Linked DNA regions of Homo sapiens: region 1 is linked to region 2. The links come from fine-mapping of genetic effects on gene expression. A gene starts in region 2. The other region holds a variant in brackets. All regions are shown on one strand. Distances are from middle to middle.

Region 1 (5,000 bases), 59 kb before region 2:
CCCAGAATTGACATAGATGATGACGGAATTAGCAGACAAGGACATGAAAACAGCTATTATAAATACATTCAGAATGCTCAAGAGTATAAAGAAAAACATGAACGTAATGAAAGGAACAGAAGATATAAAAAGAAGTGAACAGAACTTTTAGAGAATGATATACACATATCTGAAAGAAAAATTTTACTGAAAGGGATTACACAGATTAGACACCGGCAGCAGAAAAGATGAGGGAATTTGGGCCAGGCACAGTAGCTCATGCCTGTAATCCTAGCACACTGGGAGGCCGAGGCAGGAGGATCACTTGAGGCTGGGACTTTGAGATAAGCCTGGTCAACATAGCCAGACCCTGTCTCTACAGAAAAATAAAAAAATTAGATGGGTGTGGTGGTGCCTGCCTACAGTCCCAGCAACTTGAGAGGCTGAGGTGGGAGGATCACTTGAGGCCAGAAGTTTAAGTCTACACTGAGCCTGGTCGTCACTGCACTCTAGTCTGAATGACTAAGTGAGACCTTATCGTTATTTTTTTATTTTATTTATTTATTTATTTTTGAGATAGAGTCTCGCTCTGTCCCAAGCTGAAGCTGGAGTGCAATGGCGCGATCTCGACTCACTGCAACCTCCGCTTCCCGGGTTCAAGCGATTCTCCTGCCTCAGCCTCCTGAATAGCTGGGATTACAGGCACCCGCCACCATGCCCAGATAATTTTTGTATTTTTTGTAGAGATGGGGTTTTGCCACGTTGGCCAGGCTGAGACCTTATCTTTAAAAAAAAAAAAAAAGGCTGGGCGCGGTGGCTCACGCCTGTAATCCCAGCACTTTGGGAGGCCAAGGAGGGAGGATAACCTGAGTTCAGGAGTTTGCGACCAGCCTGACTAACATGGCGAAAACCCTTCTCTACTAGAAATACAAAAATTAGCCAAGTGTGGTGGTGCATGCCTGTAATCCCAGTTACTCAGGAGGCTGAGGCAGGAGAATTGCCTGAACCTGGGAGGTAGAGGTTGCAGTGAGCTCAGATTGTGCCACCGCACTCCAGCCTGGGCAACAGAGTAAGACTTTGTCTCAAAAAAAAAAAAAAAAAAGCCAGGCACAGTGGCTCAGGCCTGTAATTCTAGCACTTTCGGAGGCCGATGGGGGCGGATTGCCTGAGCTCAGGGGTTCTAGACCAGCCTGACCAACATGGAGAAACCCCATCTCTACTAAAAATACAAAATTAGCCGAGCATGGTGGTGCACGCCTGTAATCCCAGCTACTTGGGAGGCTGAGACAGGACAACTGCTTGATCCCAGGAGGTGGAGGTTGCTGTGAGCTGAGATCACGCCACTGCACTCCAGCCTGGGCAACAAGAGTGGAACTCCATCTCAAAAAAAAAAAAAAAAAGATTAGAGAATTTGAAGAACTGCAATAGAATCTATCCAAAATAAAGCACAGAAAGGAAAAAGTGATGAAAATGAGCACAGAGCCTCAATGGCCTGAGAAATAAGTGGCTTTACCTATGTGACTGGAGTTCCAGAAAGAGAGGAGAGAAAGGGATAACCAAAAAAAAGTCTGATGAAGTAATGGCCTACAACTTTTCAAATTTGATGAAAACCATAAACTTGCAGATGTAAGCTCCATAAACCCCAGGTAGGCTAAACACACATATTTATAAAACGCACCAAGACACATTATAATCAATTGCTGAAAACCAGCAATAAAGAGAAACATCTTAAAAGCAGCTAGAAGGGGGGAAACATATTACATTCAGAGAATCAAAGATAACAGTGCCAGTCGACTTCTTGTCAGAGAGTGTGCAAGCCCAAAGATGATGCAACATGCTGAAAGAAAAATCAAAACAAACTGTCAACCTAGAATTCCACAGCAGGCAAAAATATCCCTCAAAGAAGACACACTAACACATTTTTCATACAAAACCAAAGCTGGGAGAATTAATTGCCAGCAGACCCGCACAGCAAGAAATATTAAAGGAAGTTCTGCAGGTAAAAGAAACACAACACCAGATAGAAACGTGGATGTACCAGAAGGGGTGAAGGGCACCCTCTTCAAATGGTAGATTTGTGGGTAAATAGAAAAGATATATTCCTCACTTTCAAATTTCCTTACGAAGCATTTAGTGGTTTGGTTTTGTTTTTGAGACAGGGTCCTGCTCTAGGGTGGAGAGGCGTGAACACAGCTCACTGCAGCCTCAACCTCCTGGACCCAAGCAATTCTCCCACCTCAGCCTCCCACGGAGCTGGGACCACAGGCATGCATCACCATGCCTGGCTAATGTTTCTTAGTTTTTGTAGAGATGAGGTCTCGCTATGTTGGCCAGGCTGGTGTTGGACGCCTGGGTTCAAGGAATCCTCCAGCCTCGGCCTCCCAAAGTGTTGGGATTACAGGCGTGAGCACCACACCCAGCATTTACTATCTAACACACACACACACACACACACACACCCCTAATGTATTGTGGGGTTCATAAGATATGCAGAGCTCAAAGGACGGGAGGGTGAGAGGAACATATCATGTTGTCAAGGTCTTATATCTTACGTGAAATGGTATAATGTTACTTGAAAGTATTTTGTGGCTGGGTGC[G/A]GTGGTTTACGCCTGTAATCCCAGCACTTTGGGAGGCCGAGGCAGGAGGATCACGAGGTCAGGAGATCGAGACCATCCTGGCTAACATGGTGAAACCCCGTCTCTACTAAAAATACAAAAAAATTAGCCAGGCGTGGTAGCGGGCGCCTGTGGTCCCAGCTACTCGGGAGGCTGAGGCAGAAGAATGGCATGAACCCGGGAGGCGGAGCTTGCAGTGAGCCGAGATCGCGCCACTGCACTCCAGCCTGGGGGACAGAGCGAGACTCCGTCTCAAAAAAAAAAAAAAAAAGTATTTTGTAATAAATTAAAGATCCATATTGCAAACCCAGAAAACCACTAAGAAAAATAAAACAAAGAAGTACAGTTAACAAGTCAAGAGTAGAGATAAGCAGAATCTTGAAAATCCCAACAGGCCAGGCACAGTGGCTCACGCTGTAATTCCATCACTTTGGGAGGCCAAGGTGGGCAAATTGCTTGAGCTCAGGAGTTTGAGACCAGCCTGGGCAATGAAGTGAGATCCGGTCTCTACAAAAAATTTAAAAAATTAGCTGGGCATGGTAGAGCGCACCTATGGTCCTAGCTACACAGGAGGCTGAGGCAGGAGGATGGCTTGAGCCCAGGAGTCGTGTTCGTGCCACTGCACTCCAGCGTGGGTGACAGAGTGAGACCCTGTCTCAAAAAGAAAAGAAAAGAAAAGTCCCAGTAACCCCCTAAAGGTAGAAAAAGAGGAAAAGGGGAACAAAGAACAGATGGGACAAATAGCAGGTTGGTAGATTTAAACCTAACCATATCAGTAATTACATTAAGGGTAATTGGTTTGAACCAGCGGCTGGCTAACTATGGCCCACAGGCCAAATCTGACCTGCTGTCTATTTTTGTACAGCCCCATAAGCTAAGAATGGCTTTTACATATACATATATGTATATGTATATATACATGTATGTGTATGTATGTATGTATGTATGTATGTATGTATTTATTTATTTGGAGACAGAGTCTCTCTCTGTTGCCCAGGTTGGAGTGCAGTGGCACGATCTCAGCTTACTGCAACCTCTGCCTCCCAGGTTCAAGCAATTCTCCTGCCTCAGCCTCCCGAGTAGCTGGAACTACAGGCGCACACTGCCACGCCTGGCTAATTTTTTGTATTTTAGTAGAGATGGGGTTTCACCTTGTTGCCCAGGTAGGTCTAGAACCCCTGAGCTCAGGCAATCCGCCCGCATCGGCCTCCCAAAGTGCTAGGATTACAGGCATGAGCCACCACGCCCGGCCAGTTTTCACATTTTTAAATGGTTAAAATGAAATCAGAAGAACAGGCTGGGCGCAGTGGTTCACACCTATAATCCGAGCACTTTGGGAGGCCAAGGTGGGTGGATCGCTTGAGCCCAGGAATTGAGACTAGCCTGGGCAACATGGCGAAACCCTATCTCTACAAAAAGTTAGCCAGACTGGGTGGCACGTGCCTGTGGTTCCAGCTACTCAAGAGGCTGAGGTGGGAGGATTCCTTAAGCCTGGGAGGTTGAGGCTGCAGTGAGCCAAGATTGTACCACTGTACTCCAGCCTGGGCAACAGAGTGAGATATTGCCTCAAAAAAAAAAAAAAGGAATATTTTATGACACATGACTTATATAAAATTCAAATTTCAGTGTCAGTATCCATAAATAAAGTTTTATTGGAACACAGCCACACTCATTCATTTAATGTATCATCTACAACAGCTTCTATACTACAATGGAAGATTGAGTAGCTGGAACAAAGACCATATGATCAACAAAGTACAAAATATTTACTTAGGGCCAGAGCAGTGGCTCATGCCTGTAATCGCGGCACTTTGGGAGGCTGAGGCAGGAAGATCGCTTGAGGCCAGGAGTTCAAGACCAGCCTGGGCAACAAAGTAAGAACTCTCTACAAAAAAAAAAAAATGAAAATAATAAAAAATTAGCCAGGCACGTAGTCCTAGCTACTCAGTAGGCGGAGGCAGGAAGATCCCTTGAGCCCAGGAGTTTGAGGCTGTAGGGAGCTATAAACACACAGCACTCCAGCCTAGAGACAGAGCAAGATCCTGTCTTTAAAAAAATAAAAATAAAGATAAATATTTAAAAACATCTTTTTTTTTCTTTTTTTCTTTTCTTTTTTTTTTTTTTTTTTTGAGATGGAGTCTTGCTCTGTCGCCCAGGCTGGAATGCAGTGGGGCGATCTCGGCTCACTGCAAGCTCCGCCTCCCAGGTTCGCGCCATTCTCCTGCCTCAGCCTCCGGAGTAGCTGGGACTACAGGCACCCGCCACCGCACCCGGCTAATTTTTTGTATCTTTTAGTAGAGACAGGGTTTCACCATGTTAGCCAGGACGGTCTCGATCCTCTGACCTCGTGATCCGCCCACCTCGGCCTCCCAAAGTGCTGGGCTTACAGGCGTGAGCCACCGCGCC
Region 2 (5,508 bases):
GATGCTTGGGTTTCCATGGAGTAGGGTTACTGTGGGGGGCACAGAATGCTGTGAAGTGGGCCTGGACACCGGACCCCACTCAGTCCCCATGGAAGGACAGCTTGAGCTGGTGAAACTGTGGAATGAGAACTTCGAGGGAAGGATAGAGGCACAAGTCCTTCTCACCATCTCAAGTGGCCTGCAAAACCTAGGCTGGGGATCAGTCCCAGCTCTGCCCCTGACTCACTGCGTGATCTTGAGCAAGTCACTGCCTTCTAGGCCTCTGAGAAGAAGAGAGTGCTAGGTGGGAGGGTATGCTGGACAGGCTGGGGACTGCAAACTATAATGTGGATTAAGGTGAAGGCTTGTCAAGGATGGAGGCACAAGGGATGCTGGGAGACCCGGAGGAGCGCTCAGAGTGGGAGGAGTGTGAAGGGCGGAGCTAGGAGAGAGGCAGGAGTGGAGTGGGTCATCCTGAGACACCAGGGACTCCTGGGGCAAATCAGGGAGCAGAGGACAAAGGACAGAAAGACCGAGGGAGAGATGGGACAGAAGGACAGGGACCCACAGGTGGCAGCCAAAGGTGGGAGCAGACAGAGAAAGACAGGGTTGAGGGGCAGCAGGTGGACACAGAGATACACACAGAAAGACAGCCCAAGACGTAGGAACTGAGGCTAAGTGAGAGAGCAAGAGACAGACACAGCCTAGAAGTGAGACAGCAAAGGAGACAGAGACAGGGCAGGTAGGGTGTCAGGCAGGTCCAGGACTCAGCCCCAGAGACTGGGCAAAGCCAGATAAAAGTCAAAACCCAGCAGAGAGCTGAGCAACAGTGGGCATAGGAGAGACATCAGCAAAGGTGAGAGGCAAGGAGGGCCAGCGAAGGCACACAGGGTGAGGGAGAAGGCAAAGGGAGATAAAGAAACAGCAGCAGGTACAAGACTTGGGAGAAGGAAAGAAATGGCCAAACTCTACAAAGAGAGAGGGCCAGTCGGAAAGAGAGACAGTATGTCGGAGCTGCACGACAGGCCCATAGAAGAGGAAGGGGCAAGGGGGAAAAGCACCTGGGAGAGAGAAAGGGGGAGTCAGGGAGGGAAACTGAGGTGGGGAGATGGAGTGAGTGCACTAGAGGGGCACAGGCAGGGACAGGGCAAGCACCTGCAGGAGAGGCCAGACCCACACAGAGGCATAGCCACCCCAAGACACTCAGGAATGCCGTGTGGGGGAGCAGGAGATCCTGGGGCCTGAAAGCCCCCAGACATGGAGAGGAATGGGAGCAGAAAGGCCACGCGAGGTAACACAGAAGTCGGGAGAGAGAATGGGAGTGGAAAGAGCCAGACCAGCCAGGAAAAGTCAGCATGGACCACGGAGAGGTGGGGCAGCAGCTGAGGAGGGAGGGACTGAGGAGCCGGGCACCCAGAGTGGATCTGGGGGAAAGAGGTGGAAAAGTGACAGAGGGAAGACAGCCTCCAAGCTCAGAGGCAGAGAGAGGGAGGAGGACAGGTGAGCGGAGGCACAGAATAGAAAGAGAAATGGAAAGAGACCTGCCGAGGGAGACTTGGAAAGAGGGAAGCCAGGGTGGAGGAGTTCTGACAGAGAGAGGGATCTAAACAGAGACATGCCGAGAGCAACCTGGGCTAACAGCAAAGAGAGAAGTTGGGCAGAGTCAGAGAGGGGCCCAAGAGACACAGGAAATGGGGGCTCAAAAGCGGAAAGACATATCCAGGAGATAGAGACTGGACGGGGTGGGGACAGGGCCAAGGCCCACCGCAGGCAGAGGATGAGGCTCAGAGGAACAGAAAGAGCCAGTCTGGGACCAGGACGGAGGCTTGGAGACAGCAGGGGCACGGACATGCCAGGGGCCCGGGGTAAGTGAGAGCCCAAGTAAGAGCAATCAGCCCCGTAGGACCCCAGAAAGCTAGAGGGCCAGGGGCGGCAGTGAGCTATGTACCCAGAAGAAGAGGTGAGAAGAGGTCGAGGTGAATGGACGCTGAGGAGATGGAGGGCGCAGAGCAGGCCCCTAGTGGGGGAGGGTACTTGCCAGTCCGGAGAACGGGGAGAATGTGGTGCCCCCCTGCCAGGCGGCACCAGAGCCCAGCCTTCCAGGACCCAGAACCCAGCCCAATCCCTGCCCTGCAGACACTCACGGATCCTGGTGGGACGGAGGGCTGGGCTCCCTCGAGGCCCGAAGACCGACAGCGGGAGGTGCTCTGGCGCTGGGTGGTGGTGGGGCTGGGCGGGGGGAGAGGGCAGTCCACAGGGCCCCCTCCCCCGCCGCCGGTGGTGGCTCCCAACTAATCCAAAACGGTGGCTCCACAGGAGCAGGGAGGAAGGACAGGTGGAAGAGGAGAGGGCGGGCCGGGGAGGGGAGGAAGGGGAAAGGAGAAAATGGAGGAGAGAAGGGGAGAGAGGAGAGGGGGAAGGAGCAAATGGAGGGGAAGGAGGGAGGAAAGGAGGAGAGGAAGGTGAAAACGGAAGGGGGGGGCACAGGCAAAGCCGGGGGAGGGGGAAGCTGGCCCAGGAAAGGGCCCCCGCCCCCTCCCCTAGCCGGGCCGGCCTGGGGGGGCCACAGGGGGCGAGGACTGGGTGGAGAAAAGGAAGCCGGCCATCAGGAGAAGTGGGGGAGGGGAGGGCCTGCTGGGGGAGGGGGCCGCCCCCTTTCCCCCTCCCCCCTGGAGCCTGGGCCCTGCCCTGGTTGAGGCAAGGGCCCGGAGTCCTCAAGCCCTCAGCCCCCACGGGAAAAGCATGCTGGGGGCGGGGAGAGCCCGGGAGTGGAGAGCTGGGGAGGATGGAGAGCTGGGAGACCCGGAGAGGCCAAGAAGGGGGCAAATGAGGTGGAGAGATAGGGAGGAGGGAGAGGAGGATGGAGAGGAGCAGGTGGAAGAGAAAGGCGGAGGAGGGTGGGGTGTCCCAGGGGCTCCCGGTGCTGGGCCTCAGTGGGAGGGCCTGGCGACACACTCCTGGTCCCCTGTGAGGAGCCGGCTCCAGTCCCCGGCTCCAGTCCCCGGCTGGGCCTGCCTCCCTGCCGCTGGCTGCCGCCACCGCTCAGTCTCCCCTCCGAGGCCGCCGCCTGCCTGCCCGCCTGCCGCCTGCGCTGGGTCCTGGAGCGCAGTGGGGTGGTTCAGGAGAGAGAGAAGAGGGAGGGAGGGAGGCAGGGAGGAGGGCGGGCAGGAGGAAGGGAGGGAGGCAGGCAAAGAGAGAGTAGGGAGGTGAGTCGGGGGAGGGGGAGCCTGTATTGGTTGGGGCTGGGGGCCCCCCGCGAGGAGAATGCTGATGAGAAGAAGGAGCTGCATTGGATGGAAGGCCCACCCCCGAGCCACCCCCTCTACCACACCATGCCACCGCCCTGCCCAGGCAGCCCTGGGCACAGGAGCCCACAGAGATGAGAGGCAAGAAGACCCAGGGAGAAGGCCACTGAGATGAGGGGAGAGGGCTACAGAGATGAAGAGAAATGAAGAGAAGAGAGACAGCCGTCAAGACTGTCCAGAGAAGTGGGCTGAGGCCCACAAACCCCACAAGGACAAGGACAGGAAAAGCCCAGGGATAAGAAAGAAAGGCCCATGGAGACAAGGGAGCAGCCTACAGAGACAAGCAAAAGGACCTCGGAGACAAGGGGCAGTAATGTGGACATAGAGACCTCCCGCGAAGGAAAACGGGAGAAGCCAGAGACACAAGAGAGAGGCCCCTGGAAACAGAAAGCACTCCTCAGATATGGGGAGCGGTCCACAGGGCAGGGAGAGAGCCAAGGAGAGCCGAAGAAGGTCACAGAAACAAGGGAGGCCTACAGACACCAGGGTACCAAAAAGACAAGGATGTGGCTCATAGACACAAGAGAGCCACTGAGGCAGGAGCTGCCAGCCTGGAGATGCGGGGCAAGCCTCCCCCAATATAAATAGCTCCTATAGAGGTGAGGGGATGGGTGGTGAGTATGAGAATTCCCTATAGTGCACAGAGAAATCCTTGGGACCCACAGAGATGAGTGGGTGGAGAGAAGGGGCCCTCATTCTCTAGTCACAGGAGCAGAGAGGCAGTGGGAAAGGTGGATGGGACAAGGAGAGGAAGCTGGAGGGCAGAGCCAGAAGTGGGAGACTCCTTCCCAGGGAACACCCTGCAGCCTCTCAGAAGGAGCTGAGCAGGACAGGGGGATGGAAGAGAGAAGCGACACAGATCTTGGAGTGGGGGTGGGTGGTGCATGGCTGGGTGGGGGGTGAAATTTGGGGGGAAGAAACATGACAGTTGGCGCCGAAGGCTGAGCCCGTGACTCACCACCACCCCCGATGCTCGTGATGGGGAGGAGACACTGACACACTCACGTGCGGCCCACAGCATATGTGACCGCATGCCTCGAACACACAGCTGGCACATGGCAACTCCTGGACCACATGCCAGCCCAGCACAGGAAGCCCTCTGCAAGCTGGCATGTGGGGCATCCTGGACACACATCTGACACATATATCTGACGCTGAAGGACCACCAACTTTGCACACACCTCCTTACCCCACTTGGTCAACATCTACACCGCCCCCTCAAACATCCACACTTAACTCCAGTCAGGCCTAAAAGCCCAGATTCACACCTGCCTCTGGGACTTTGCTTATGAAGGACCTCAACACAGAACACCATCCTTTCGACCAGGGCGGTGGCTCATTCCTGTAACCCCAGCACTTTGGAAGGCCGGGGCAGGTGGACCACCTGAGGTTGGGAGTTCAAGACCAGCCTGGCCAACATGGCAAAACCCCGTCACTACTAAAAATACAAAAATTAGCCAGGCCCGGTGGCACACTCCTTTAGTCCCAGCTACTTGGGAGGCTGAGGCACAAGAATTGCTTGAACCTAGGAGGCAGAGGTTGCTGTGAGCCATGATCATGCCACTGCACTCCAGCATGGGAGACAAAGCGAGACTCCATCTCCAAAAAAAAAACAAAAAACAAAAACCAACCACCATCCCCTCTAAATTCAACCTGTCCCGGAAATCCCAGCCAGTCCTGCACTACCACCTCCAGAAAGACCTCAGCTTATCCTCAGCTTATTCCTATATGATCTGGAGAAAAGAGACCTGCACCACCCAAATCAAGTTGAGAAGTCCAAGCAAAAGGCCTGAGAAGTTACCTGGATCCTCAAATTTTCTTTTTTTTTCCTTTTCTTTTTTTTTTTTTTTTGAGATGGAGTCTCGCTCTGTTGTCCAGACTGGAGTGCAGTGGCATGATCTCGGCTCACTGCAAGCTCTGCCTCCTGGGTTCACACCATTCTCCTGCCTCAGCCTCCTGAGTAGCTGGTACTACAGGCGCCCACCACCACACCCGGCTAACTTTTTTTGTATTTTTAGTAGAGACGGGGTTTCACCATGTTAGCCAGGATGGTCTCGATCTCCTGACTTCGTGATCTGCCTGCCTCGGCCTCCCAAAGTGCTGGGATTACAGGCGCAAGCCACTGCACCCGGCCAGGTTTTCTTTTCTTTTATTTTTTCTTTCTTTCTTTTTTTTTTTTCTTTAGATGGAGTTTCGCTCTTGTTGCCTAGGTTGGAGTGCAATG

The links. PIP is the estimated chance that this variant, and not a neighbour inherited with it, causes the effect.
Region 1: its variant is the best candidate, but not a certain one, in a credible set for the expression of GRIK5 in whole blood (TOPMed, PIP 0.77).

What each region holds. Positions count from the first base shown.
Region 1 is chr19:42,008,705-42,013,704 of GRCh38, forward strand. The region is part of intron 15 of GRIK5 (glutamate ionotropic receptor kainate type subunit 5); the gene reads right to left. Among named protein-coding and RNA genes, the nearest start is that of ATP1A3, 17 kb to the left of the region's middle. The variant G/A (reference allele first, on the strand shown) is at 2,577.
Region 2 is chr19:42,067,118-42,072,625 of GRCh38, forward strand. It overlaps GRIK5 (glutamate ionotropic receptor kainate type subunit 5), which reads right to left and starts at 3,089. Exons shown (of 20, transcript NM_002088.5): 1 at 2,124-3,089. It also overlaps a transcript of ZNF574 not described here.